Regions from separate parts of the Homo sapiens genome. Here region 2 is linked to region 1. The links come from fine-mapping of genetic effects on gene expression. Tissue or cell type: whole blood. Region 1 holds a variant in brackets; the other region holds the start of a gene. All regions are shown on one strand. Distances are from middle to middle.

What was found. PIP is the estimated chance that this variant, and not a neighbour inherited with it, causes the effect.
Region 2: it holds the start of USP45, and the variant in region 1 is fine-mapped to the expression of USP45 in whole blood (INTERVAL, PIP above 0.99). The same link has a PIP of 0.9 or more in activated CD8 T cells.

What each region holds. Positions count from the first base shown.
Region 1 is chr6:99,474,171-99,476,853 of GRCh38, forward strand. USP45 (ubiquitin specific peptidase 45) reads right to left here. Exons shown (of 18, transcript NM_001346022.3): 9 at 1,973-2,060. Among named protein-coding and RNA genes, the nearest start is that of USP45, 40 kb to the right of the region's middle. The variant CT/C (reference allele first, on the strand shown) is at 1,147.
Region 2 is chr6:99,513,939-99,516,621 of GRCh38, forward strand. It overlaps USP45 (ubiquitin specific peptidase 45), which reads right to left and starts at 1,485. Exons shown (of 18, transcript NM_001346022.3): 1 at 1,454-1,485. RefSeq lists enhancers at 493-1,400, 1,401-2,306 and silencers at 1,223-1,322, 1,373-1,742, 2,053-2,272.

The DNA of each region.
Region 1 (2,683 bases):
GAGACACTGCCACACTACAATTAAAACAGGATTTTTGTTGTTTTTTGAGGTAGGCTCTGCTCTGTTGCCCAGGCTGGAGTGCAGTGGTGCGATCACAGCTCACTGCAACCTCCGCCTCTCGGGTTCAAGCAATTCTCATGCCTCAGCCACCCAAGAAGCTGGGATTACAGGTGTGCACCACCACGCCTGGCTAATTTTTGTGTTTTTAGTAGACACATGGTTTCACTATATTGGCCAGGCTGGTCTGAAATTCCTGAGCTCAAGTGATCCGCCCACCTTGGCCTCCCAGAGTGCTGGGATTACAGGCATGAGCCACCATATCTGGCAGAATTTTTTTTAAAAAAGGAAGGTCCATCTTGCCTAGCACTACTTATCACAAGCACATATGCACTTCACTGAACACTTGGCTGCTTTTATTACATATTACCATATAGATTAAGAAGTATATTTGCCTTGAATGGAAAACAGGTTTTCACCTATTACTCCAATTATGACTGACAAGGGCTGCCCACAATGGTGTGCTCAGAAAATAATTCTGAGGCTGAACCCAAACTCACCTGGACTGTTAGGAACGATCAGCAATGTCTTCTATGAGTAAGAGGGAGGAAAATGGAGAATGTGTGCTGTGTATCTGATATCCTTAATATCTTGCATTTTCTCTGATAAACTGATCCTATGTGCACAGGAAACCCCTCCCAGAAGAAGTTGAATTTAACTAATTTAACGTTAAAGTCAATAAAGAGCCTATCAGTTAGGGGATAGGCCTACAATCAACACTGGGGAATCTATCCAGTCCACAGGCTATTCCTTTTCTGAGAAATGCTCTCTCATCTAAGAGGCTGGGACTCCTCTCTCCTAGCCACAAACAACTGATCCATGAGTGGAATTTAATCCAACATGGAATAATGAAGTTTCTGTCTACTGGGAATTTAAAAATTGAGAATCATGAATAGCCAGTATAGTTTTTACATACATGGAACTATGACATACAAATACTGCTTGGTCTGCATGGAGAAAAATGAAGAAAATTTACAGAGCCAGAGAAACTAGGATAATAAGAAGAATGCTTTCTGGATTCCTGACAGCTTTCCTGTTCCTATATCCCCCTATCGCCCAGGAATAATATCTCCCTGCATCTTAAGATTC[CT/C]TTTTTTTTTTTTTTTTTTTACAGCGTTTCACTCCGTCACCCAGGCTGGAGTGCAGTGGCACGATCTCGGCTCACTGCAACCTCCACCCTTGGGGTTCAAGTATTCTCCTGCCTCAGCCTCCCAAGTAGCTAGGATTACAGGCACACGCTACCACACCTGGCTAATTTTTGTATTTTTAGTAGAGACAGGGTTTCAGCATGTTTCCCAGGCTGATCTTGAACTCCTGACCTCAGGTGATCCACCTGCCTCAGCCTTCCAAAGTGTTGGGATTACAGGCATGAGCCACCATGCCTGGCCCCAATTCCTTTTTACTTAAGCTAGTTTAAATTATTTTATTTACAGCCAAAGGACATTAACTAAAAAGGACAATAGGGCTGTAAAAGGATAAAGGTAAATATCTTACAGAAGAAAGAAAAAATATCTAGAATATTTACTCTAAAAAATTAAATTATTTCTCAACTGTACTTTTAAATTGTAATAGAAATTACTTACTTAGTTGTTTTTTTGTTTGTTTGTTTTTTGAGACAGAGTCTCACTCTGTCACCCAGGCTGGAGTAGTGCAGTAGCGGGATCTCCGCTCACTGCAACCTCTGCTTCCTGGGTTCAAGCAATTCTCATGTCTCAGCCTGCCAAGTAGCTGGAATTACAGGTATGCACCACCATGCGCGGCTAATTTTTATTAGAGACGAGGTTTCACTATGTTGGCTAGGCTGGTCTGAAACTCCTGACCTCAGATGATCCACCCCGCCTTGGCCCCCCAATAATCCCTTAGTTTTGTATCCTCTTCTTGAAGAGAATACATGATATACATAAAGAAACCTGACCTTTGTTTCTTCTGTCCTCACTGCATCCAGAAGATAATGAAGAAGCTCCTGACTGTCCTGTTGCTGGAAATCTTTAAATCGAGGTGCCCTGTGATTTAAAAACAAAAGAGGAAAGAAAAAAAGAATAATCATTCCATGGTTCATCAACACTCTTCTCTAAATGCACTTGAAATAGCATATTATTAGCTGGGTGCGGCAGCCTACGCCTGTAATCCCAGCATTTGGGAGGCCAAGGGGCAGATCACTTGAGCTCAGGAGTTCGAGACCAGCCTGGGCAACAAGGCAAAACCCCGTTCTCTACCAAAACACACACCCACACACACAAAATGGCATAAAGACACAGTTTACTACTTTTCCAACTAAATAGATGAAATGTGATTACTGGTCCAATTAGGGTGTGATCTTAAGTGTGCACTGAGAATATGGCTATCATTTATTAAGCAACTACTATATGTTAAGCACAATACTAGTAGTTTTTCACATGTTCAGGCATAATCCTCCAACAACTTTGTTGGGATGTACTGTTTTCTCCAACTTACACATGAGGACTCAGCAGTATTGTTTAAATCATTTGCAAGGTCATACAGCTAGCAAATAAACCAGTATTCAAACCCAAGCCACTGTGATTTATTATCTTCCTACCTTAACCAAAAGGAAAGCAAGAGAGTGTTTCTATTTCATATAAAGGACTATAAGTTGATCTCCCTGTGA
Region 2 (2,683 bases), 40 kb after region 1:
CTTAATGGACACAATGTACATTATTCAGGTGATGGTTACACTAAAAGCCCAGTACCACTAGGAAATATATCCTCGTAAAAAAACGGCACTTATATCCCTTACCTTTATACAAATTTACAAAACTGTGGCTGAGGATCTCCGTGATCTCCCCCACATTTAGAGCTTTGATAGGATGCACGGGACTCAACATATAGTTGAATTCATGGCTGACATTTATTACACAATGCAGTATGGATATAAAGGCTCATCATAATAGAAAAAGACACAAGCGGAGTCTGGAGGAATCACGTGTAGGCTCCTTATGCGGTCTCCCTCCCAAGAGGGGTCAAACAAAACACATCCTTCCTCCATCAGTGAAAATGCAGCAGTTTCCGCGCAGGGAAGCCCATTAAAGACTTGGTGTCCCGGATTTTTACAGAAGCTGGTAATTTCGGCATAAAACATACTGTTCAGCACAAACCCAAAAATCTAAGTTCCCAGATGCCAAACAAGCACCAACATTGCAAGCAGTCCTTTCTAAGGATAGCAGTCTTAAGGCCTGCTATGTTAACTCTTTTTAGCACAAATATGTTCTGGCCATTTTTCTCATGCGGTTTTCCAAACAATAAACTTTACAGTTTTCAAGTCACCATCACTTAACACTTGTCTTTTCTCTAAAGTAGGATGTGCAACTAAGTTGTTTAGAAAGCTTTGTTTTTAAACAGGCTATGCAAAAAGCCCATATCCTTAAGAAAAAAAAATCCTTTTTTCCTACTCTTGGGCAATTATTTATGGGGGTTGGAAAGAGAAGAAAAGGTCACTATCTCCTTTTATATACCAAGCTCAAAAAGATGAGCAGCACTTATGGTTTTGCTGTGTATCACGCTCAGTTCTAAGCACTTCACAAATATTAACCCACGCAACCCTCACAACCACCTTAGGAGATAAGTTGCTATTATTTTCCGCATTTTACACTTGAAACTGAGAAAGAGAAGTGAAGTGACTTGCAGAGGTCCCAAAGCCAGTAAGCGGTGGATGGAGATGCGGACCCAAGCAGTCCGGCCCCGGAGCTCCTAATACACGACGCTTCCAGAAAAGTCATTAGACAGGCTTCCTCCGGTCACCAACACACACACACCCCGAGGATGTGAAGAGAAATGCGCCGCGATGAGGCGGACGGAAAGGTGTGGGGCCGCCGCGCGCCCAGGTCACCAGGGGACTCGGGCCCCTCCCAGGCCAGCCCCGACGCCCAGGGCTTCTCCCGCAGCCGCATGGACCCGGAGCCGGCAGAGCGGCGCTCACACGGCCCTCGGTGACCGCCCGGCGCCCCCAGGGATCAGGAAGCCGAGTGGGGTGGGGAGCCTCTCTTCCAGCCTCGCCCACCCACAAGGGGGTCAAGGTCGCCGAAGCGAAGACCGAGAAACTGCGGCGACCATACCGCCGCTGCGACCAAAGCGCCGCGTTCTCAACTCACCCCGCCGGGCCGGGCCGCAGCGTCTACAACCTGGGGAGACTGCGCCTGCGCGCTCGTCCCGCTCCCGGCAGAGGTGGGGCCTCGTTCGCCCGCCCCCAGCCAGGACCGGGAGGGTTCCAGGCGGCGCGCCCGGGGCCCGGGAGCGCGGGGAGGGGTGAAAGGGCGGGGCCGGCTTGCGTGGCGCCTGCGTTCTGCGTGTCCGCAGAGCCCGGAGAGTCCCTGATAATCTAAGACTCATAGCCACCGACTAGCAATTTGTTAGGATCCTGGGCCAGCGTGCGCACCTCGGATGTTGCAGGAGTCCGGCTTAAGTCCCACTTGTTGCTGGGCACCTTCTGAAACAGCCTCCGATTTCCCTCCGTTACCCTCCTCTGAACTCTTTTTTTTTTTTTTTTTTTTTTGAGACGGAGTCTCGCTCTGTCGCCCAGGCTGCAGTGCAATGGCAAGATCTCGGCTCACTGCAACCTCCGCCTACCGGGTTCACGCCATTCTACTGCCTTAGCCTCCCGAGTAGCTGGGACTACAGGCGCCCGCCATCACGCCCGGCTAATTTTTTGTATTTTGTTTAGTAGAGACGGGGTTTCACCGTGTTAGCCAGGATGGTCTCGATCTCCTGACCTTGTGATCCGCCCGCCCCGGCCTCCCAAAGTGCTGGGATCACAGGCTTGAGCCACCGCGCCCGGCTCCGCCCCCACACCCCCGCCGCCCCCTGAACTCTTAAAGTCACATCTAACATTCGTCATATATTATTGTGGTTTTTCCCCCATTGCTGTTGTCTTACCTATCCTTCTCTCTTCCTAGCTAGATAGTACATTTCTTGAAATACACCTATACCTCCTCAAAGCCCGGTTATCTGTTGAAGTGGCCAGCACATTGCATGTTTAGTAAAAGTAGTTGGTTTGAAAATATTTTGTTTCAATCATGGATATTGCAAATGCCAACACTGGTTATGGATAGGTTCTAAAAGTCTCCTGATCTTTCACAACTCTTCAGCCAAGGGACAAATGTGGCTTTAAGGATAAGAGCATTGGCGTAGAAATCAGAAGATACGAGAGTTAAAATTGCAAACACTAAATTTTTCTTTAAAAACTCTTCTAACAGTATTTACATGTGGAGAACTTGGCAAAGAAGGTTGATATTTGCTTATATCGTACTTAACAAGGACCATTCATTTAACAAACATAATTGAGCACAGATATGCCAGTTGCTGTTACAGGTATAGAGGTACAC